Linked DNA regions of Homo sapiens: all the other regions are linked to region 3. The links come from fine-mapping of genetic effects on gene expression. Tissue or cell type: whole blood. Region 3 holds a variant in brackets; each other region holds the start of a gene. Each region is shown on its reference strand, or each on the opposite one. Region 1 holds the start of MS4A4A (membrane spanning 4-domains A4A). Region 2 holds the start of RET (ret proto-oncogene). Region 3 has its middle 18 kb from the start of SNORD141A.

What was found. PIP is the estimated chance that this variant, and not a neighbour inherited with it, causes the effect. A credible set is the group of variants that fine-mapping cannot tell apart.
Region 1: MS4A4A starts here. The variant in region 3 is the best candidate, but not a certain one, in a credible set for the expression of MS4A4A in whole blood (TOPMed, PIP 0.81).
Region 2: it holds the start of RET, and the variant in region 3 is the best candidate, but not a certain one, in a credible set for the expression of RET in whole blood (TOPMed, PIP 0.50).

The regions. Positions count from the first base shown.
Region 1 is chr11:60,277,223-60,285,399 of GRCh38, forward strand. MS4A4A (membrane spanning 4-domains A4A) reads left to right here and starts at 3,444. Exons shown (of 7, transcript NM_148975.3): 1 at 3,444-3,494. The coding sequence starts at 3,454. RefSeq lists a silencer at 3,329-3,378.
Region 2 is chr10:43,072,740-43,080,916 of GRCh38, forward strand. It overlaps RET (ret proto-oncogene), which reads left to right and starts at 4,330. Exons shown (of 20, transcript NM_020975.6): 1 at 4,330-4,592. The coding sequence starts at 4,520. RefSeq lists enhancers at 175-932, 641-932, 1,143-1,304, 3,387-3,653, 3,519-4,376 and 1 more and promoters at 3,869-4,552, 4,254-4,552.
Region 3 is chr9:132,998,723-133,006,899 of GRCh38, forward strand. No RefSeq gene overlaps it. Among named protein-coding and RNA genes, the nearest start is that of SNORD141A, 18 kb to the right of the region's middle. RefSeq lists cis regulatory regions at 84-1,006, 5,105-6,056, 5,524-5,541 and enhancers at 2,168-2,668, 4,504-5,377, 5,461-5,605, 5,480-5,774, 6,252-7,123. The variant C/T (reference allele first, on the strand shown) is at 5,029.

The DNA of each region.
Region 1 (8,177 bases), not on the chromosome of region 3:
CAATTATCTCCCAGTGGTTCCCTCCCACAACATGTGGGAATGATGGTAGCTACAATTCAAGATGAAATTTGGTGGGGACACTGCCAAACCATATCAATAGTGAATACTTAAGTAAGTGAATTCCCTGAGAATAGTGAATTAAGATCCCTGAAGGCCTAGAGTATAACCAGTCCTAACTGGAATAGGAGAATATAAGGCGCCAGGAAGGGAGAGTGTATACAGAAAAATACTAATGAAACAGATCAATTACCTGTGGGTCTATAGACACTGAGATTTACATTTATGGTGGAGTATTTAAAACAACTTATTTTCAGGTATGTAGAAAACAGCATATGAAACATGAGGCAGTTACTAACTTCAGAGAGAAAAATGGTCAAAAGGAAGCGTAATCATAACACTCATAATGAATTAGCCATTAATGATTTAAATACTATAAATTGAGTTAACTAAAAAATCGTGATAAAACTATATGGGAGAATGAGGGAAAAGGAAGTGTTATGGTGGGAAGGTGTGTCCAGGGTAAAAATGAAGGATATAGGGGTTAGTCTATTGTCTTCAGTAGTAGGAGGTTAGTGCATAATATATAAAACCAAAAATTAGAACAGTATTTAAAATCATTCACTTAGAAATATGGAGTCAACACAAAAAGAAACAATTAAAATTTAAATACTTGCTTCTGGAGAAAGAAAATTGATTGGGAACTGGGGAAGGGGGCACTAATGATTTCTTTCAGGCTAAATCCAGTGAACATTTTACTGTTGTTAGCTTGTCTCTCTGAAGTATTTAATAATAATTGAATGATTTCTTCCTACTGAAATATTTCTGTGCTCAAAAAATGATAAGTAATTTATTTATATTACCTAATATAACCCTTTCAACAACGCTATGACATATTACTATCTATATTTTACAGATGAGTAAACTGAGGTGCAGAAAGCCTAAGCAACTTGCTCCAGCTCACATAGGGCATAGGATTCAAAATCCAGCTCAAGGCCGGGTGCAGTGGCTCACGCCTGTAATCCCAGCACTTTGGGAGGCTGAGGAGGGTATATTACTTGAGATCTGGAGTTCGAGAACAGCCTGGCCAAAATGGTGAAACCCAGTCTCTGTTAATATATAATATAACATATTATATAGAGATACATTCTATTATATATATAATATATTCTATTATAATATAATATATATTCTATTATATAATATATATTATATATTATATCTATTATATATAATATATCTGTATATGATATATAATTATATATAATATATAGATATTCTATTATATATAATAGGATATATATTCTATATATATAGAATATATATATTTCTCTGTCAAATTTCATGTTATTGTTCTCTTGAAATTGTTATCTGCTAATAATAACCTGATACTGTCTCATTTCATACCATATGGAGTGGGAGGAGAGACTGATGCCTGTCCTTAGTCCAGAATTTCAACCTCTCTTAGGAAGTCATGAAACTCTGTACCCTTGTCTTCTGCAATGCCACATTTTCCGAGTTTGCCTGCTATCTTCCTTACCCTCTTTTTCATAATCCTCTGGGAAATCTTATTTCTGATTATACTGTCTCTATCCTCTAGAAAAAGGGTTTGACGTTTTCTGCCTCCACCCACAAGCCTGGGTGACCTCATCCCTCTGGGCGAAGAGCTGTTGGGTTTACCTCTATAGCCATGTTCTCATTCCCTAGCTCCTGCCAGTTATCCACTTCTTGTCAACTTTATTTGAAGGTCCCTACACAACTCTGATCAAATACGTTCAAAATTTTACTATTTGTTCCTGCAGTTCTGTCCTGGTCCATGTCTATTGCCTTACTGAATGGCTCTATCACTCATTCAGTTTCCTAACCCAGAATCTGAGTGTCATCCTTTCCTGTTTTTTCTCCTGATTTACACATCCATTATACCAACAAGTACTGTCATTTCTTGTTCCTAAGCATCTTTCAAATCCATTCATTCTCTCCAACTTCACTAGCATCACAGGTAGTTCAGTAACCATCATCCCTTCCCTAGAGAACTGCCTCTACCTTGAGCCTAATTCTCTGATTTTATTATTATTTATTCCTGTTGTCTGAAACCAGGACAATATTTCTGAAATATAATCTATTTTAATTTTGAGAATCGTAATTTCAGATTATAGACCACATAGTTTTTGGAATTAAGTAAAACTGGATTTCAATCTCATCTATACCAGCTATACGAATATCTCTGAGTTTCAGTTTCTTCTTCTGAAAAATAGAAATAATAATATTACCTTCCTTCATTCCCTTTCCATTTGTGTGTCTTTTGCTCATTCATCAGGTCTCCAATTAGATGTCCCCTTATCTAGGAAGTCTCCTCTGCCTACCCAATGTTGGGTTCATTGATCCTCCTATGAGCTCTCTTAGGATATCCTACTTTACCTTGCAGATCACTGATTACAATGGGTTGTAATGATGTATTTACTCATCTGTATTGCCACTTTACCTTGCAGATAACTGATAGTAATGGATTGTAGTGATTTATTTACTGGTCTGTTTTTCCAAGTAGTCTATAAACTCTTTGAGTGAAAATTATTTTTTACCATTTTTTCAGAAGCACACGGCACACTGCTTGGCTTATAGTAGTTTTTCTAAAGAAAATGCTGAATGAATGAAAACTGCACACCACTTTGCTTTCCTCCTCCATGTAAAGTAGGCATTATTTTATTTTACAAATGAATCTTAGGTTCAGGAGATTAACAGGGCCATGCAAGAAATGTTTGCCATTGGTTTGATCTTAGTCAAAGACCAGCTCGTTCTATGATACCAGCTGCTTCCTTCACTTAGAAAGGTGTTGTTTTATTGCCATACAACCAACTTGTTGCCATTTTATGGCCACTCCTGATGAATCTCTAAAGGTGGAATTTCATGTAAATAAAACATTTAAGTTGTGTATATTAAGGTTGGTGCAAAAGTTAATTGTGATTTTGGCCATAAAATAATGGCAAAAACTGCAATTACTTTTGCACCAACCTAATAAAATAGTAATAGTAGTGCTCCAGGAAGACAAGAGTACTGTGGAAATGTGTGACCCTGTGAAAGGGGGTATTTACAAAATACCATTTACTTGTTTATATAACGACTTTTGAAGAGAGTCTGGCATACAGTAAATCCTCTACCACTGATATCCACAGTAATTAGCAGTATTATTTTCATAGGAAAGACTGTATCAGGCAGCCCCTGCTTTTTCAGCAAATTTCAAAATAGACATCCACACCCATATTGGGAACACAAAATCAGTTAATGCTTCCGATATAAAAGAGGAACTAGCTGTGCGTCTCAGAAATTCTCAGCACAGCCTTTAAGGTTCCAAACATCTGCTAGAAGAGGAATGCAGATTTAAACTGAGTGAGGTGTGGAGTGGGGGAAGTTGATTGGGTCTAGACCAAAGAACTTTGAGGAACTTGCCCAGAGCCCTGCATGCATCAGACCTACAGCAGACATTGCAGGCCTGAAGAAAGGTAGGTCCAGGGACTTGCCTTCCTAGGCTTTCGGGCTGATGGCTTGTTTCACTTCCTGGGTTAAGAATTTCTGGGAGGGGAATGAGAAGAATAATGAGGCCACTTCCCATGACCCAAGCTGGTATTCAGGGTTGGGGTGGGTTGAGTGCACCTTTAAATGTGCATTCGGTGGGGGGATGAGGAACAGTTTTTGCTACAGTCGATAGGAGTTAGAAAAGCCTCCTAAAGGCTGACATTGGAGGCTGGATAAGGTTGTTTAGTTACTTTTGTCCCCTGAGTCTTCAGGATATCAAAACACTGAAAGCAACATTTTAAACCTTTGACTAGTTACCTCATCTACTGTTAATGCCCTTCTTCTGTGGTCTTTATTCTCTGTGTCTGACTGGTTATTTTTATAACTCAGGATTTAAGAACAGATGTATCACATGCAGAATTTGGTGTACATGGAGTAGGGCACAGGCAGGGTCCCCAGCCTTGTACATTTAGATGGGCTGTGGCCTGACCTAGTTCTCCAGTGGTCTTTGGCACTATTCATGGGGCACCCAGGCAGTAAACTGAGGCTGCTCATGATAAAATCTGCTAATGAAAAACACCTTGTAGACTTTTAGCATTCTTAGGATAAGAAAGAAGCTTGTAAGTGGTCGTGGCCATTGTAATCTTTCCCCAGATGAAGTAAAAGAAGCCAATAAAAGGGAAATAATGTACCCAGAATCACACAAGTTAACAAAAGGGCTGGGAGAAAAACAAAAACAAAAACAAAAACAGAATTCTTGGTTCCTAGCCCGGGCCTTTCCCCCTTTTCCCTTCCCATGCCACCACTTCTGCATCCCCATCATCCTTCTAAAACCATCCAGATTCAGGCCTCATTTTGGGTTTCTAGTCTATTTGACAACTTTGCCAAGAAAAACGGATGGCTGTTTGTACCACTCTCCTCATGCTCTCTCCTTGCAATTGTGACCCATGAGGAGGATGGTGACATAAAAATGAGGAAATAAGAGACTGGTGGTGCTGCTGATCCACAAGGTGACTGGGGCCAATAGAAGAGGGAAGGGTGGTCTGGGTTTCCCCACCTCTTTATCAGGGGTGTGGGGGAAAGACATTGTATTTCTTAAGAGCCTGATGCATATAGGTGATGTGGCAAAACCAAGGTTTAAATTCTTCTCCAACCTGGAAGAAATGTCCCTCATATGCATCCAATATTCTCAGCAGTTAAAAAAAAAATTGAATATAGAGAAGTCAAGCCCTGGATGGTAAACACGTTTTTGTTCTTGGGGACTTCATGTGCCGTAGATAATTAACACAAGGATTTCTGTGGTGGAAAAAGAGGAGGCAGTTATATGAATTTATGGCCAGAGTTTCTTAGAATGACAAAGCACCAGCCTTGAATGACCAGAACCTGACCTATGTTACCAAAGAATTATGGGAAAGCATAGGAGTCAGTTACAAGCTTTATTTTGATATAATTGCTCTGCCCTCGAGGAAGCTTACAGTCTTACCAGAGAGGCACTAAACACAGAGAGAGAACCACCAGTGCGTTTGATAAGACAGACCCAACATGTCCTAAATTCTCAGTCTGAAGGTGTGCCTGAGAGATTGAGGCAGAGGTTCTTTTACATTAAAGAAGAATAAAGTACACATTTAGATGGACTAAGAAGAATCATCTTTAGTCACTTTCCAAATAACTTTGACTTTTGCAATGTAGAAGGAACATAACACATTTCTTAAACCCTTATTTACCGTCATAGGCTGACTAATCCACATGTGGGCAATGGTGGGGAAGTGGGGGAATAGTGTCTGAGAGAAGATAGAGACTATAAAATGCTGTTCATGTGTGAGAAGATTAGATGATGTGGTGGGTTTGTTTTTGTTCTTACAAGGTGGTCACAAGAGGGGTGGAACATTCCTGCAAATGGTTTCAATATATGCAGATGTCTCAATATAGGAATGAAATTACGTCTTTGGAACAACTTAAATAAGTCAAATATACTTGGAGCTTTAAAAATTAAAAGGAGAGAGATTCGAGGTAAGACTACAATAGATTTGTGCTGAAGTAGCCGAGCTTTTGTTATCAACATTAAAAATTTTAACTTTATGCTAAGGGTGGTGAAATATAAAAGAAGGCTTTTAAAGGGGATGGTGACTCAATTGTTTTTGTATTTGATCATTCTGGCTACAACATCAGTGGTGGATTGAATATCCAAAGCCACAAATGGACACAGGGAACATTCAGAGGCTATAATGAATACTTCTGATAAAAATAGAATAATGGCTTGCCTTGAGAAGATGGGAGAAATACACAGAGTTGAAAAATGGTTGTGTAGGATTAGAATGAGATTGATTGAGCATAGAGGGTAGGCAATGGAAGGAACCAATGACAAACTATCAGATATTTTTGAGACAGGGTCTCACTGTGTTGCCCAGGCTGGAGTACCCTGATGCCATTGTGGCTTACTGCAGCCTGGGCCTCAGCCTCCTGAGTAGCTGGGATTACAGGCGCCCACCACCACACCCAGCTAATTTTTGCATTTTGTGTAGAGATGGGGTTTCACCATGTTCCCCAGTCTGATCTCAAACTCCTGGGCTCCAGCGGTCCTCCCACCTTGGCCTCCTATACTGCTGGGATTACAGGATTGAGTCAAAATGCCCAGCTTTAAACTTCCAGATTTTTAACATGGATAGTGTAGTTAATTGCTGGACCTTCCACCAAGAAAGGACACTTGTAATTTCATAGCCCTCTTAGGGTTCCTGTTCCCTTTAGCTCTTGCCACTCTTGATTAGCAACTACTTACAGGGCTCTGAAATAATCTCCACATAGGAAGATTTGCGCCACCTTACTTTTTTGAAAGGGAAATTTTGAGGAAGACTGGATGTCTTCTATTTAGGTCTTCTAAGGTTTGAAATAAAAATAACCTCTTCTCCCTTCTGGGACAAGTAGGTAAATTGTCAATTTATGGGCTTTATTAGAATGACTTTAAATTAAGCCCAGAGAAGGACAATTCCCTTAAGTGTAACAAAATTTGAGGATGTGGATTAAATGTAAGACCAAAAATAAGACCTATTTTATTTTAGCCATATGCTCCAAATCTAAATTTTGTGTTCTGTCTAGGAAGTGCTAAAGTGTATATATAGGTCTGAATATACCTACTCCATCGCATATAAATGCAAACCACCTCACAAATTCCATTATCATTGGAACAGAGACTGCAAGAGGAAGACAAGGGCCTCTTGGCCCACCTCTACGTAGTCTTGTTATCTAACTTATTCCAAATTGGGTGGTTTCTACCTTTTAGCTATTATAGATAATGCTGCTAAGAAAATTAATTGTACAAGTTTTTGTGCAAACAAGAGATCTTCCATTCACCAGACTAGTTTAGTGGATCCCCTTAAGCAAAGGAGTTCTGGAATTACATCACCTGGATTTAAATTTTGGCCCTGCCACTGTTTACTCAAGTTACTTAATCTTGTGTTTCTATAATTCTGTCCTGTGAATAATAGAATATATCTCTCAGGGGAATTTAATGATGAAATAACACATATAAAACATTTAAACCAGTGCGTGTCACTTAATAAATGCTAAATACATATTGACTATTATTACTGGTATTCCTACTATCACTTACTCATTTCTGGCTTGAAGTATAAAACATAAACTTCCTTTAACACTTCCTGCCACTCAAGGACATGCTAGACAGGGACTTTACTCCTGTCATGACCCTGCTCCAACCTTCTCCGGTCTTGGGGAAAATAGAAAAGCAGATAAGAGGGGTCTATATAATTGGTGAGAGCATGTTTTTCATGGTACCATGTGGTCAGAGGTTGACTCTTCCTCTCTTTTGCAGTTTGTCTCAAAGATTGGTCAGAAGAGTCAGGATTGTCCTCCTTTTTTGCTCTCAGTAAGTTAGATACAAGACTATGCAGAGGCGGGCCTAGAGGCTCTCCTCTTCCTCTTGCAGTCTCTGTTCTAATGATAATGGAGTTTATGAGGTGGGTTACATTCACATGCTATGGAGTAGGTACATTCAGACCTATATCGACACTTTAGCATCCTCTGAGCAGAACACAAAATTTAGATATGGATCAAAGGGGTAAAATAAAATAGCAGGCCTTATTTTTTGTCTTAAATTTAATTTGTACTCGCAAATTTTGTTAAACATCAGAGAACTGTCCCCCTCTGGGCTTAATTTAAAGTCATTCTAATAAAGCCCATAAATTAACAATTTACCAACTGCCCCAGAAGGGAGAAGAGGTAATTTTTATTTCAAACATTAGAAGACCTAAATAGAAGATATTCGGCCTTCCTCAAAATTTCTCTTTCAAAAAAGTAAGGTGTTACAGGAAAAGTATGTGGAAATTATTTCAGAACCCTACAAGCAGCCTCTAATCAAGAGTGGCAAGAACTCAACGTAACAGAAACCCTAAGAGGGCTATGGGACTGCAAGTGTCCTTTCTTGGTGGAAGGCCCAGCAATTAACTACATTGTCTGTGTTAAAAATCTGTAAGTTTAAGTTTGGGCATGGTGGCTCACTCTTGTAATCCCAGCACTACTGGATGCTGAGACGGGAAGATCACTTGAGCCCTGGAGTTTGAGACCAGCTTGGGTAACATAGAGAAACCCCATCTCTACAAAAAATACAAAAATTAGCTGGGTGTGGTGGCACAGGCCTGTAATCCCAGCTACTTGGG
Region 2 (8,177 bases), not on the chromosome of region 3:
CCCCTGTAGGAGAGAAAACCCTGGCAGAGGGGCAGGAAACACTGCCACTGTCTGCTGAGCCCACTGATGCATCATTGGGCTTTACCCTCAAGGCAGTGCCCATGTTATTGCTCTCATGTCACAGAGGATGACACCGAGGCCCAGAGAGGACCACAGAAGCTGCTGAGTGGTGTGGCTAGCCTGGCTCTGGTGCTGAGCGAAAAGGATGGAGATTCCTCCAAGGGAAGGGGAGGAGAAGACGGGCAGAGGGGAAAGAAGAAAGGAGGGCGAGGGAAGGAAATTCACAAGAGAACAAAGTGTGGGGACATGGAAAACTGAAGTGGGCAAAGTGATAATGATAGGTTAGTGGGAGTAGGTGGGCAGGCTGGTGGGAGGAGGTGGGCTTTCTCTGAACCCCCCAGGGTCTCTGATGGATATGTAGGCCCCTGTTGCTTTTGTTCGGGCACCCGGCTCCTAATCAGGCCCCAGGGAGGATGCAAAAGGGGTCTTCTCCCAGGCCAGGTTGAGGGCTCTTCTGCAAACACCCCTGAGGGCACCTGAGGCCCACAGGCAGGCAGGACCTGCACAGTTAGGTAAAGCCTGTCCTGCACAGCCACACCCTGCAGGCCCAGGCCAGGTGTTCTGTGAGCATGCTCATGGAAGCAGCATATTTGGCATAGGGTGGGCTGGCTGAGCAGCCCCTCTGAGTGCCCTGAGAGCTAGCTGGTGGTCACTGGCTTCCTCCTCGCAGCTGCCCTGGAGGGCACCAACAGCAAGGCCAGGGAGGCAAACCGTGGGGAGCAGTAGACCTGCCCCTCACCTCAATAGCCCGATGGGGGAGCAGAGGGCAGTGGCAGACAGATGGGAAACTGAGGCACCGACCACTTTGCTAACAGTGCACACAGCCAGCCTCAGAGTCTGTGCTTCCAACCACCATGTCACACTGCCCATGGGAGGGACCTGGACCCCTGCCCACGCCCACTCTGAGAGGCCTCGGTCAGCAGTTCCAGGAATGCCACCCAGCCTTCCAGTATCACCAGGACCGAGCTGCGCTCTTGAATGTGTTTCCCCCTACCTGCAAGTCACGAGGCACCCCCAGAGCCAGAGTTTCCTGTCACTGCACTCAGCCTCACTCCAACCATGCTTCTCAGTGCAGGCAGAGACCCCCATGTCACCTGGGTCAGAGGACACAGAGCATCCCGCCCGCCTCCCGCCAGGCAAACCTGCACAGGCATGGCCCAGATCTCTGTCCATGATGGGTTTCCCTCCTCCCTCCCTTCCCTGTGCTGCGTTTTGGTGCTTTGGGGTCAGACCTGAGGTGCTCCAGGTAATCTTCACCTGCTCAGAAGCAATGAATGACCTCCAAGTTCTCACATGCTACAGGAAGATGGTGTGAGCCGCCTGCCCACTGAGCATCTTACCCTGCACTGGGGCAGAGCCTTGAAAATACCATCTCCTCACAGTCACCAGGGAAGGACACTGTTTCAGTCCCCATTTGAGAGATGACAAAACTGAAGCTGAGGAGTAATGTATGCAATGTCACACAACTATGAATGGCAAAATTCAAACTCAGGTCTAATCACTCCAAGCAGATGCCTGCACCAGAACCTCTTGGGGAATTTTTTTTTTTTTCTTAGAGATAGCGTCTCACTGTGCTGCCCAGGCTGGTCTCGAACTCCTGGCCTCAAGTGATCTTCTTGCCTTGGCCTCCCAAAGTACTGGGATTACAGGTGTGAGCCCTTAGCCTGGCCCCTGAACTTTTTTTTTAACATGGATTTTTAGGGAGTGGGGGACCCAGGATGTGTGTCTTCATAAAAGCTGCCCTGAAGATTCTCCAAGGGGACCTGCGGGCAGGGACAGGAAGCACTGACCACACTGTGATGTGCCCTCCTCCAGCTCCCAGAGAGCCCGCGACCCTCAGCAGGGCAGTGTGGCCAGGGTGCCCGAGCCCAGGCCCAGGAAGGCCCAATGGCTACAACTTATTAAGGGCTTCCTGTTTGTCGGGCACTGGGCTCTACCCTCACATGCACCCCTCTTTCTAGTTTCACCCCTTCTTCTGAAAGGGAGATGTTTATAGCTGGGGAAACTGAGGCTCAGAGAGATGACTAAGGGGAGTCAAGAAAGAGAGGCAGAGCCCCCTGCAGGCCCTCCCCACCCCATGGACTGAGAGAAGCCAGGGCCAGGACTCCTGGGCAGCCAAAGACCGGCACGTCTGCTTTGCACTTCACCTGGCCCCCACCTCCCCTTGTGAGACCTCAGGGGGTGGCCTCGCTTCCCCTCTGCTGGGCAAGGAGCTCCTTCCTGCTGCCTGATGTTCTGGATACTGAGCCTACACCCAGGCAGGGCTGAATCTCCTTTCCCCGCAGTCCCTGAGGCCAGCAGGCTCTGGGCCTCACAACTGTCCTCTGCTGAGCGACCCTTTGGTCAGATCCCTGGGCGTGCACGTAGCAGGGAGGTATGCATCTGTGTGCGTGTGTGTCCACGTATGGGAACACAGGTGTATGCATGTATGCATGTGTACAGGGTACACCCATGTGAGGGCCCCCCAGACCTTTTTCCAAGGAGTAAATGACACCCTCTCATAGTGTCAGGTGTTCACTCAGGACCCCCAAGGGTGAGGGTGGAGCGAGAGCGTGGAAAGGCCTAAGGTAGGCTAGGCAGGAGCACAGCCCCAGATGGCCCCTTAAGATGGCCACACAGAGCCCAGCCAGACATCAATGTCAGCCAAGGGCTGGCCAGGGTGGTCCCCGGGAGGTGCAGGGGTGGGGCTATTTAAGCCTACCCACTTCTCTCTTCATTCACCTAGGAGGCAATCACAGGAGCTTGTCTGTAGCCAAAAGATGCCCCCAGCCCCTCCCTACCTATCAGGTCCCTTCCCTGGGCACAGGCCTGAGTGTGTAGCCTAGGTAGCCACTGGCACCAGAGATGGAACCTGTCTGAACCCAAGGGAGCCCCTTGTGGCCAACTCTAGCTCCATAAACTGGAAGGGTGTGGCAGGCAGCCGGAGTCCAGTGGCCCACAGTGTCTCTCCTGGGCTGGCAGGCCTGTGCCCCGGCCACCTGCCCCTCAGCAAGCCAGGTCTGGACATCACGGTTGGCTGAGTGCAAGCCAGCCTCTGTCTTGGCAGCTCCCCCTCCTGCCTGTGAGGGTGACTTCACTTTGACTTCATATCTGCAGTGATGTGCAGATCACTTATTCAGCCCTGAGCTCAGCCAGGCAAGAGGGCGGGGTTCTGCACACAGCAAGCAAGGGAGCGGCTGGCTCAAGGGTGCCCTGGGCCCAGGTTCCCTGGCTTTTCCTCCTCAAGGGCCCATGGGCTTCCCTTCTTCCATCCCTCTGCGCCTAAGTGCAGGCCAGACCTCAAAAAGCAGCCGGGGATGGGGCGAGAACAGAGGACTTCCCCACTGAGCCCACATCCAACCTCACCCAGAACCCCTTCTCAGGTCCAGTTGCTGCTCCCTATTAGGGGTAAATGTGTTTATGCGCATCATTTCCATCATTTCTTTGGGGGAAAATTGGATTCTTTCCTCCTCCTCGCTACTCGCTCTCCGACTCTGCCAGCCCATCTCCTGAGAGTTCTCCTGTGTAAGGGATGCAAGGGCCACCAGCACCAGGTCTCTGAAAGGACGCCGGAGCCAGTTTCCGGTTTCCAAGGGTTGGACCAGTGCTGGAGGGGGGAATCACAAACTGCCCTTCCAGGACCCTACCCTCTCTACTACCCCAGGATGCTGAAAAAGGCTATTCTGCCTCTCTTCCCCTGCTCAGCTCTTCCCCGCCTCCTGCCTCCGGCCCCAGCAGAGGCCGCGCTCCCACTGCGCCTCTCGCCTCTGAGAAATGGCGCAGCAAGCGCTCCGCGGAGAGCCTGGAGGCGGGGCGCCCTTCTCTGAGTCCGCGGGGTCGCACCCCGAGCCAGTCGGCCAGACCTGCATCCCGCGTAGCATCCCTGCCCTCTCTGTGCAGCGGAAAGGGCAAAAGGCAGGGACTGCAAGCGGGCGCGCACCGGGTAGGAAGAGCGGCTCTGCGTAGGTGCGCGGACCCGGGCTCCTGGGTTCCATCCCCGCCGCGCACCTCGGGGTCCGCACCCGGCTCCTGCCGGGCCCTTTTCGGCCGCACCCCGCTCCCGCACCCCGCTCCTCCCCAAGCCCCACCCGGCCCAAGCCGCGCGTCCCGCACTGAGCTCCTACACGCGCCGCGCCCCGGCCGCACCCCGCGCAGCCAGAGCAAGCACTGGAGCCCCGCCCCTTCCCGCACCCCACCCGCCTCCGGCCCCGCCTGGCCCACCCCTGGACCGCCCCCGCCCCGCCCCGCCCCTACCCGCTCCTCCGGCGCAGCCGGCGCTTACCTCGCTTCAGTCCCGCGACCGAAGCAGGGCGCGCAGCAGCGCTGAGTGCCCCGGAACGTGCGTCGCGCCCCCAGTGTCCGTCGCGTCCGCCGCGCCCCGGGCGGGGATGGGGCGGCCAGACTGAGCGCCGCACCCGCCATCCAGACCCGCCGGCCCTAGCCGCAGTCCCTCCAGCCGTGGCCCCAGCGCGCACGGGCGATGGCGAAGGCGACGTCCGGTGCCGCGGGGCTGCGTCTGCTGTTGCTGCTGCTGCTGCCGCTGCTAGGCAAAGGTGAGTTCTGCCGGCCGCCGGCTCCCGCAGGGGCCAGGGCGAAGTTGGCGCCGAGCAGCGGAGCGGGCGCGTTCAGAAGCGCCTTTCTGTTTGCCGTGGGCAGCGGGCTGTGCGGTCGCCGGCCACCCGGCCTCGGCTGGGAGCGCAGTGGCTGCGGCGGGCGGCGGGCGAAGGGCAGGACGCCTCGGGCCGGGCGCCTCGGGCCGGGGCTGGGCGGGTCTCGGGCGGGAGCGGAGCGCGGGCCGGGCCGCGGGGGTCGGTGCTCAGAACCCTAGCCATAGCCGCAGGTCTCAATCTGGCCGCGCCCTGCGCCAAAGCCGCGTCCTGGAGCAAACGGGACAGCCGTTTCGGGGCCGACCTGGCGGACGGGTCAGGGAGCCCCGAAAGCCCGCGATTCGTGCGGAGAGTTCTGTTTCGGCAGGAGACGGCTCCGTCCTGGTTTCCTTTTCCCGCTCAGCGTCCGTGCGTTCCTCCCCCAGCTCTGCCGTCCTGGCCAGCCGAGGGATTCGGAGGCTCTTTTGAAAAGATTGCTTTTCCCTCGTGCGTTTTTGCCGCCCTGTCTTTAAACACCTAAAAACCGTGGTTTCTGGGGTGGCTCCCCCCGAGGGGCCGCCGTGATAGGCGTCCCACCCGGCAGCCCTGGAGTCGTGTGGCGCTGCCTGGCAGAGATGCTGAAGATGCGGCCATAGGAGGCCCAGGGCTTGGGGTGGGGCAGGGGTTTGCGCCGCCAGCCAGCGTTGGTGCTGGGCCTGGTGAAACCTCAGGTGCCTTAGGATCCCAGCATTAGGTGTGGCCTTGCAAAGATGGTCATCGACCCCACCCAAACTCTGGCAGAGTGAGCCGCAAGGCTGTGGAATCTTTGACCCCTTGGCACGCGTTTAAGTGTCCCTCAAACTGGCCCTGACTTGATCCCCTCCAAGCGCTTGTGTATGAACCAAGTTTCCCTCTAAGAGGGAAGGAGCCCTGGCCATCCTCCCTCACTCCTTACAAAGGGCTTTCTCTCCCCACAGCCTTTGGGAACAGAAGAAGCCATGGTCAGTCACCCTGTCTCTGGCCCCAGGCCCTGCACAAACTGAGTTTCCAGGCCTGCCTGAGACTTCATTTGTGTGACCTGCGCCTCAGCTCAGCATATGCTGAGGCCAGAGCGGGTCCCCAGTCCACCTAGCGAGGGACAGGGGAGAAGCCCTTGCCTTTCTATCTTTTCTGAGTGTTAGGACTTTGGGGTCCCAGTGCTGCAGGGGGAAGACACGGGGCAGAAGCAAACAAGGCGCTCTGACGCTGTCTTGGGATTCTGGGCTGTGGCTTTGGCTTTGAGGTTGTGGGCAGGGGGCCAGGTGTGAACTGCTGCTGGTGTGCTGGGCAGAGGACTTCCCCACACCCTTCCACAGCCTTGCGTTCAGTTGGGGTGGCCAGTGAGGCTGTGGGGGCCAGGCTCTGGGGGCCGGCTTGTGGCACTCAGCAGGCATGCAGGTAGCTTTCCGTGCCCAGACCCCTGGCCCACAGACAGCTTCCCGAATCCAGAGATGGTGAGCCCCTAGCCCCTGGGATAACCCGGACACCACAGTTGGAGGCACTGGGAGTGAAGAGGCAGCCCCACTCCCTGGAGTAGACAGCTGGGGCCTTTGAAGAGGCTGCAGAGCTCTTTCCCAGGAGCCACAGCTCCGGAGGTTCGAGCCGCACTCTTGGAGCTGCCAAGGACCGCCCCAGTGAGCCCCTCGGTGCTCCCCAACCACCCCAAGGGGACAGCTCGGCCTCAAGCGCCCTCTTGCGGACGCTGCACTTTAGTGGCTGGGCCTGATGACAGGCACAGACTGGGTCTCTAGAGGATGAGGGTTCTTCCACAGCTCACACATGCACACTCACACTGGATCACCAAGACACACTCCTGCCCCTTCTCACAGCACTTGCTGCCAAGGCTGTGGACATGCACAGCGTGGTTCCTTCACACCCTGCCTCACCCACGTCCACACAGGGACCCCAGCCCCTCTCATCACTCATACACACAGGGACGCCACGTGTGTATATAGGGACACACACTCCTCATACCTGCAGGGCATAGCCTGTCAGCCCCAGGTATGCTGGAACCAGAGTGAGAGAACCTCCATCTAAAAGTTACATTCATTTAAAAGTTGCTCTTAAAGGTTTCTGGCATTTCATTGCTCAACACAGATACAGCTGTCCCCGTTGCTTGGATGAGGAAACTGAGTCTCAGCTTCTGGGGTTCCCCCCAGGTCCCAGGCTGACCCTGCACCTCAACCTCCCACAGCTCCTCAGCAAGCCTCTTGTCTCTTGTCTTCCTGGCCTGACTTCTTGGGTCCTGTTTTGCAGCAAGGAAGGACATTCCCTCTCTGCCCCTGGGCCCCGGGGCCTTCTGTTCCCAGCATGGAAGAGCTGGGCACTGTGACTTGGCAGGGCCCGGATCCAAGCTGCCAGACCACCCTCTGCAGAGGGCCTAGGCAGCCCACCCCTGCCTGAAGCACCAGGTATCAGCGCGGGCAGCTCAGGCCAGGGGTACAGCTCCCCCTGCTTCATCCTTTTCCTTCTCCCCTTTCTCTGGCCAGAGGCTTCACCAGGTTCACCTGGGCCTGGCTTGCTTCCTCCTCCACTCCAGCTCACTAACCCTGTCTGGCCTCCAGAAGCTGCCTGCAGCCCTCACTGGTGGGCTGTGCCTGCTGGGGGCCTGCAAGCAGAGAGCAAATGGGGAAGTGCATTGAGCTGATTCACTAAATTGCCTTTCTTCTGCAGAATCACTTTAGGGACAGGCTGAGGAAATCACTGTTTCCTTGGTGGTGTGAAGAAAATGGGATGCGATCACCTAGCGGGGAGCTAATAGCCTTTTAGCCAGTGGAGGAGAAAACCAATTAAAAATTATGATATCTGTTAAAATGGAACCTGGGGTGCCAAGGGGAAGGGAAGGCCCGGAAGCTGCCATCTCCCCTGAGACCTTCCCCCTCTGCAGCCTGGCCGAAGACCCTCTAGGTCCCCTCGTCTTAACTGGATAAGGCTAATACCAGCAGTAGCACCCCATGGGGGCTCACAGTGCACTGCCCCTGTGCTGTGCCTACTCACTTCATCTTTTCCAACAAGTCTGCAAGGGTCATGGTCTTGGCCCATTTCACAGGTGAGGAAACAGGTTCTCATAGCCTATGGACTCGAACCGGTAGAGAGGATGCGGGAGCTCCCCAGCCCTGGCCCTCTGGCTTGCTCCAGCCCGTTCTCTGGGCCAGTGGTGTGGGTCCAGGGTGGGGCTAAGGAGGGCTTCCAGGGAGGTTGCCCTGAGCCTGCCCACCCACTGGTGAGTCCCCCCACCTCGGGCTCCAGGTGCCCTCAGGACATCCCAGCCCAGATCCCAGAGTAATGTGTGGCACCATGCACAGACGCTGAGATACTCTCTGGGTCTCGTCAGCTTTAGTTGATGTCTGGGAGTCCTATGGGTCTGGGGAGGAGCACCAGGCATGGCTGTGCCAGCAGAAGGGCCGACTGTGTGTGCTCTGTGGATGGCAGGAAGGCATCTTGCTGCCAGTGGCGGTGCAGATGTTCGGCTGGGACACCAGGCTGTGGCCCTTGCAGCCAACATATGCCTGA
Region 3 (8,177 bases):
TTTTAGTGTGTATGTTTTATTTTTCTGTATTGGGCGTGCATGATAACATTATCACTGGCATGACAAAAAAGACTCTGTCTGCTGAAATATGATTTCCCGGCCTTGAGGTTTGTGTCTCTGTCCCCTCCCTCAAAGCTGCAGGTCCCTTCAGGCCCCTCTAGTGCAGTGCAGAGCCTTGCAGGCAGGTGACTTTTTACTTTACAAGTGCTGGCTGTCTCGCCCCCACCCTGCTACTCTGTGAGCCACCTCCTGGCAGATGCTGGGTCCTATCCTTTGGGGCCAGGGCCTACTAGGTCCCCAGTAAGTTTAGGATGGGTATGCAACCTCCCGACTCCTTCTTAGCAGCTGGGGCAGGGCCTCCAAGGTAGGTAGAGTGACAGCCTGGTTTGGGAACAGTGGGGTGGACACTGGACCTGTGACTTCTCACAGGGTCCCCAGCTCTTCCTCTGGTCTGGGTCAGGGGCTGTCCGGGACCACCTCCATGGGTGTCTAGCTGGAGTTGGGCCTGGCCCGGAGACAGGCAGGACCCAGGGTTCCCGGGGGATGGGGGCTGCAGGGATGCTGCGGGAGGGAAATCTGAGGCAGGGCATGTTCCGACCCGGCATGCTCAGGTTTGGCCTGATAAGTTTATCGCACGGTGCCGGCTGCCAACCGTCGGTGTGGAGTAGAACCATGGGCCAAGCAGGAGGGCACTCCTGAGCCGATAGCGCCTTCCAAGTGTTATCAGGGGCCTGGTGGCCCAGAGAGCGGGAGAAAGGGACCAGAGGAGGGAGAGAGAGAGAGAGTGAGGGAGAGAGACAGACACAGACAGAGAGAGAGAAAGAGAGAGAGAGAGAGACTTCCACCCACTTCACTCAAAGGACAAGCTGGGGAGGAAGAGGCCTCCGAGGTTCCTCAGGGGTCCTTGACGTCCCAGCCTTGAGCCACTGCAGTGGGGAATCAGCCCCGGGCAGGCACAGGCTGAAGACCCCATCAAACCCAGGCATAGCCTTCCAGATCACCAGACAATGCTGCCACTACTCAGCTCTTCCGCAAGACCTAGGGAAAAAACTCCCTTTCCTGGAAGGTCCTGGGGCTCCAGGATGCACGTGGAAATCCCTGGGAGCAGGAGGGCCAGGCAGCCGGGGGCTGCTTCTTTAATTACTTGAACCCCATTCCATCCCACCCCAACCCTTTTCCTCCCTAACCCCAAGCCCCAAGGCCTCGGGTGAGAGTCAGGCTCAGGTTATCTTTTGTGAGTCCCTCTGGGGTGTCCAGCCTGGCACTTGTCTCCATCCAGGGAGGCACGGCTTTCCAACATTACACCCCTCCTCATGACTGGGGAAACTGAGTCTGAGAGTGAGCAGGAGAGCAGGCAGGGGGGCAAGGACCCAGGAGACCAGGAGGAAGAAGAGCAGGAAGAGAAGGGAAAGCTGGGAGGTTCCACGCCCACCCTGAGGTCTGGAGGTCCGACAAGTGCTTCGTGATCTGCAAGGAAAAGTCGCACATGAGGCAATGCCTCCCAGCCCTAAGTGCAGCCACAGGGCAGCCTGGTCCTCAGCTGTGCACAGCCACCTGGCGGGGGGAGGCAGGCGCCGGCATCCACAGGGTTATCTTTGTGGGGTGGATTTTTAAGTCCTTTTGTTTGTTTGTTTTTGTTTTGTTTTGTTGAGATGGAGTCTCACTCTGTCACCCAGGCTGGAGTGCAATGGCGTGATCTTGGCTCACTGCAGCCTCCACCTCCTGGGTTCAAGCGATTCTCCTGCCTCAGCCTCCCTGGGTAGCTGGGATTACAGGTACCCACTGCCATGCCTGGCTAATTTTTGTACTTTTAGTAGAGATGGGGTTTCACCGTGTTGGTCAGGCTGGTCTCAAACTCCTAACCTCAAGTGATCCACCTGCCTCGGCCTCCCAAAGTGCTGGGATTACAGATATGAGCCACCACGCCCACCTAAGTCCCTTTTATATACATATATACAGTTTTCCGTGGTTTCTATAACAACAATGTTTTGGGGGAGGGCGTGGGGAAAGAAAGGTGATTTGTTCATTTGTTTTAAGAGGCAGAGAAGGAAAAGGCATTGCTACCAAGGCTCTCTGACCTGGTGGGAACGGTCCCAGCCCAGGATCAGTCTGTAGGTGCCCACCTCTGCCAGCCTGGGGTGCAAGCAGAGGGCCATGCCAGTGTCTGCAGAGCCAGCAGTGTGTCCCCTGGAGTCATGTATGAGAGACTGCACCCAGGACCCTCACAGAGGCACAAAGACCACCCTGACAGGTCAGAAATCTTTCATTCATCAACTCCTATATCTATCGAGTGCCTGCCACAGGTGGTGAGGATCGGGCCGAGGGGAAAACAGACGAAATCCCCGCCCTCTTGGAGCTCAGCGGGGATGCAGAGACTAAACAAAGCCAGGAGAAACAGAATGCAGAGAAGCCGGGCGTGGTGGCCCGTGCCTGTAATCCCTGCACTTGGGAGGCAGAAAGGGGTGGATCACCTGAGGTCAGGAGTTCGAGACCAGCCTGACCAACATGGCGAAAACCCATAACTATTAAAAATACAAAAATTAGGCCAGGTGCGGTGGCTCACACTTGTCATCCCAGCACTTTGGGAGGCTGAGGCAGGCGGATCACCTGAGGTCGGGAGTTCGAGACCAGCCTGACCAACATGGAGAAACCCTGTCTCTACTAAAAATACAAAATTAGCCTGGCATGGTGGTGCATGCCTGTAATCCCAGCTACTCGGGAGGCTGAGGCAGGAGAATCACTTGAACCCAGGAGGCAGAGGTTGCGGTGAGCTGAGATCGTGCCATTGCACTCCAGCCTGGGCAACAAGAGTGAAACCCCATCTCAAAAAAAAAAAAAAAAAAAAAAGTTAGCAGGGCGTGGTAGCCGGTGCCTGTAATCCCAGCTACTCTGGGGGCTGAGGCAGGAGAATCACTTGAACCTGTGAGGCAGAGGTTGCAGTGAGCTGAGATCGTGCCACTGCCATCCAGCCTGGGTGACAGAGTGAGACTCTGTCTCAAAAAAAAAAAAAAAAAAAGAAAGGTGTGGGGGTGTTGATGACGTGGAGATCACCAAGTTAGATGGGTGGCCAGAGAGACCTCATTAAGAAGCACTGAGTTTCCCTGCACAAGAGAGGGGGTTGTGGAAGGACAGCCCTGGATGGAGTCAGGAGACCGAGGGATGTCACTCTGCTTGGCTGGGTGGCTTTGGTCAGACACTGCCCTCTGGGCCTCAGTTTCTTTTTCTTTTCTTTTCTTTCTTTCTTTAAAATTTTTTGTTTGTTTGTTTGTTTGTTGAGAGAGGATCTCACTCTGTCACCCAGGCTGGAGTGCAGGGGCATGATCACAGCTCACTGCAGCCTCAACCTCCTGGGCTCAAGTGATCCTCCCACCTCAGCCTCCCGAGTAGCTGAGAGTACAGGCATGTGCCAACATAACCAGCTAATTTTTGTATTAGACAGGGTTTAGCCATGTTGCCAGCCTGGGCTCATACTCCTGGGCTCAAGCAATCTGCCCACCTCAGCCTCTCAAAGTGCTGGGATTACAGGTGTGAGCCACTTCGCTCAGCCAGTTTCTTTTTCTTTTTTTTGTGCAGACAAGGTCTCACTGTGTTGCCCAGACTTGTCTTGAACTCCTGGCTTCAAGCCATCCTGCTGCCTTGGCTTCCAGAATAGCTGGGACCACAGGTACTCACCACCACTCCAGGCTAATTTTGTACTTTTTGTAGTGATGAGGTCTCACTCTGTTGCCTAGTTAGTCCTGGCTTCAAATGATCCTCCTGCCTCAGCCTCCTGTAGACACCTCTTGACTCCCAACCTCTGCTCTTTCTGTCCCCTCTACCCAAGTGGCTCTTTTCCTCCTACCGATTTGCTCAGCTCTCTCCTAACTGTCCTGGGCACAGCTCAAGCCTCACCTCCTCCGGATGCCTTCCCAGGCAGTTCTCTTCCCTCTGACACGTTTGTGGCACGATCACAGCACTTTCCTGTGAACGCTGTGAATGGCTCAGGGTGCGGGGTAGGCACACAATAAATGTAGTTGTTATTTCATTGCCAAAAGCTCTGACCTTGGAGCCCAGGTTCTGGGCTGGACCTGCAGGGCCACAGGTCCTCCCAGTCTGGGGTTGGGGAGCAGGTGGGGAGCAGGTGGGCCCCCCCATGCTGTGATGAGCTGAATCCTGCTGCACTCCTCGGCTGTCCCTGCCGACAGCTGGAGCTACAGACACCAGGCTGAAGCCCAGAGCTATTTCTGCCAAGGGTGACTTGGAACTTCCTCCCGGATCTCTTAAAAATAGAGGGGTTATCGTGGCCGTCAGGCCCCTTCCTCCACATGGGGAACTCGAACATGATTTCTGGGGAAGGCCTAAGCCCCAGGCCTCTCTCAGCCCAGCAAGGACTTATCTCTGAGCTCAGCTGGGCAGCAGGAAGGGAGCGAAGCGACCACCGTGGGCAGCTCTTCCTGCCCCAGGAGCCCCTTTTGGGAGCAGCAAGGGATGTGGCCACTGACTCAGGGGTGTCAATCACCCATCTTCCCCGGAGCTGCGGTTGCCCACCGGACTCTGAGGGGAATCAGAAGTCAGTCGCGTAGAGAGCATCCTGGGGAAGCCTCAGGCACCGTCCGGCCTGGCCTTTCTGCTCCAAGCCCTCCCCCTGCGCCCAGCACGACCCCATCTCTGTACACTACCATGAGATCACTGGTGGACAGCTGTCTCTACTGTGTGGCCAGCCCCAGCAGAGGCTGAGGGTCGGGCACCTGGAGGTCAGGCTGGGGTCTACCACTCCCAGCAGCTGGGTCCTCTCTGCAACAGAGGGCATTCCTGGGGGCCAGCCCAGCTCCTCTGGGGATTTCTTCCCACTTTGTAGACCCCAGACTTAGTGCCAATAGAAGACCACTTCTCGCAGGGTACAAAGTCTGTTCAACAAGTATTTGCTGGGCGTCCACTCTGGGCAGGGCCTTGGCAAGACCCAGGAGAGGAGACGCTGTGGGGGGTCTGGAGGCCCAAGGGGGTTACTAAGCCCAGCCCTGGGGTTAAGGGAAGTCTAATGAGGGAAGT[C/T]GACATTTGCAAGACAAAAAGAATTTGATCTGTTGGAAGTGCAGAGGGCTGCCCCAAGCCAAGAAAACAGCGGGGCACAAAGCCCTGGGGGAGACAAGAGGCCTCCCCTGCCCCCAGCTCTTGCCCAACCTGTTAGGGAGCAGTGCTCTAGCCAGCGCCTTCTCAGGGCTTCAGGAGGCCAGTGTGCAAAGCAAGGGTGACCTAGTGGGGTCCTGGGGGCTATCCTGTTGGGGCTTGGCAGCCAGCCACATGCATCTTTGGTCATTGCCACGGTCACGGTCCCTGCCTTCCCATCCCTGCTGGCTCGTGGGATGTCTACGGGGCTTGCCTGGCACCCCCGGCCCTCCTCTGCACTCCTCAGGAAGGAAGGTTCAGGATCCCTGAGCTCAGCCTCCCCAAGGCAGCTCTTTAGAAGCCTACAATCTTAGCTGGAAACCGTCACGGTTAAGGGTTTCCTCCCGGTGGCTCCCCAGCGCCCCTCAGCCCGGCCTGAGACTTATCACTGCCCCCCAGCTGGTGCCCCCCTCCTCCTCCAACCACCTCACCCTGGGTGATTCAGCAAATCTTCCCTCCATGAGGGGAAAAACAAGAGTGAAAAATCACAATGTCAGATTACAAAGCCCTAACTGTAGGGCAGGCCCCTGGCAGGGAGATAAGGGTCTCATTCCCCACCCTCAAAGCCTCTCTGGCAGATAAACCTCCTAGAGCAGCATGGGCTGCACTGCTGCAGGTGTGGGGTGGGGAGGCCTGGCCTCACGGAAGTCTGGTCAGGGGACACAGGGCCCTGCCAGGAGCTGAGGGCCCACAGCTCGGCCACTGTGCAGAGCTGGCCAAAGAGGAAGTGCCACGGCCAGCATTGATGTTGCCATCCCAACAACTGCCTTGGAGGGAAAAAGAGAAGGGCAGGGCCTTCTGAGAAAGTTCAATGACAGGATGCCCCACAAATGCCCTTCACCCTGGGGTGTCCCTCTGCCAGCTCAGCCTGCAAACCATGATCCCTTGTACGACTGCAGCCCAGCTGTGTTGCAGAAGTAAAGGTGTCTGCCCCCATGAAGCCAGCCCAGAGGAGGGAGGAGCTGGGATGCCATTCCTGGGAGGGGGGCCTCCTCTGGGGAGGCCTGGGTGGACTTGAAGGCAGCTCAGCCTCATCTGCCCTAGAGACCTTGCCAGGAGAAATCCTGGGTCTCCAAGCCAGGAGATCTGCTAGGCTGGGAGACCTGCCCTGGGAGCCACTTGTCAGCAGGGGACCCTGTGATTGTGGGGATGAGGCTGGGGGTAGGAAGGGGCGGTCACTAGGCTTCCTCTGCTGGTGGAGGACAATGAAATGATGGCTTTGAAGCTGAACTCTGTGCTGGGCCCTGGTGCTCTAAGCAAGTCATTTCTCTACTTTTTAGCCCCGTATGCTGTCTGTAAAGTGAGATAAGAAAACCCACCCGCAGGGCTGTCCTGGGGAGTCCAGGTGCATGCCAAGCAGGAGTGGCACAGGTCCTGGTCTCTGTTTCCCAGGGTTGGGGACCAGCATCTGGCTGGAATGGGGGTGGCTTTGGGATAAGTGCCTGCATAGCTCTTGGTATCCAGGGCCAAGGGTCCAGCTGCCCAGCATTCTAAAGACTCTCCATTGTCTGGGGAAGCTCTCTGAGGTCATTTCCCACAACACCATGGGATGGCTGCGGTGGGCTAGGGAAAGGAGGGTGTGCAGCAGGCACATAAACTTTCTAGAGTAGTGTGGGTTGCACCACTGCAGGCATGAGGTGGGGCGCCCCGGTGTCACAAAAGTCCGATCAGGGGACATATGGTCCTGCCAGGAGCTAAGGGCCCAGAGCTTGGCCACCGTGCAGAGAGCTGGGCGAAGAGGAAGCGCCGCAGCCAGTGGACTTGGTTCCACTCAGCTGCAAAAGGAAGAGAGTTGGTCAAGACGACGTCTGCAGTCCCTTCACTATAAAATTTTGCAAAATACAAACTGCTCAGTGGGTGTGTAGTTGGCCGAAGGTACTCCACCAAAGAGGTACCAAAAGCTGGTGGGCTTCAAAGCAGCATCGTCCCCAGCAGCCAAAAAGTGGGCACCCCAAGTGTCCATCCACAGATGATGGGTAAACAAAACGGGGCCTGTCCATGCTAGGAAATATGACTTGGCCATCAAAGGGAATGGAGCTCTGACACATGCCACACGTGGACCTTGAGGACATCATGCTGAGTGAAACAGGCCAGTCACAAAAGCACAAGCACAGGATGATTCCACTTATATGAGGTCCCTAGAGTAGTCAAATTCATCGAAAGTAGAATGGTGGCTGGCAGGATCTGGGGGAGGGGAGTGGGGAGTTAGTGTCTAATGGGTACAGAGCTTCAGTTTGGGAAAAGTTCTGGTGTTGGCTGGTGGTGATGATTGCACAACAATGTGAATGTACCCAATGCCACTGAACTGTACACTTAGAAATAGTTAAGAAGGTAAAATTTATTAAGTATATTTTAGTAACCCCTCCCCCCGCCCCCGCCAAAAAAAAAAAGCCCATGTGCACAGTGGTCTCTGCTGAATGAAGACTTGAAAACCAGAGCCCAGCCCTAAACAGCTCATGCATAGTCCAGGCAGAGAAACAGAGCAGGTAATGCCCCCTCAACTGATGGCAGACGGGCCAGGGAGCCCTGCTCTGGGCTGGAGCAGGGAGGCACCTTCAGGGTTGTGGGAGATCTGCAGGGAGAGCCACTTCTCCCTAGGGGTGGGTGTCTGAGCAACAGCACCAGAATCCCAGCGACATTCTCTCCTTCCTCCTTCCAGACTGGCTTTGCCTGCCTCTGAGGCTCTGGGAATGCTGTTCCCTCCACTTGGAAGGCAGTTTCCTCACTTCACCAATTCTTTATCTTCGTCATCCCAAACCCAACCCACATGCACCCCACAAGAAAACCTCCCCTTGCCAGTTATAGACTCTCAAATCCCCCAGAAATTCTGCCCTCTGATGTTGATCATAATTGTCATGAAATAGCTATTTGTGTCATTGTGTGACACGTTCTATGAAATTCTCCATTGCTTCCCCAGTACTCATTAAGGAAATGCTTTTTGTCAGATGGACAGATGGATGGTTGGGTGAGTGGATGGATGGATGAATGATGGATGGATGGATGGTTGGATGGATGGATGGAAGCATGGATAGATG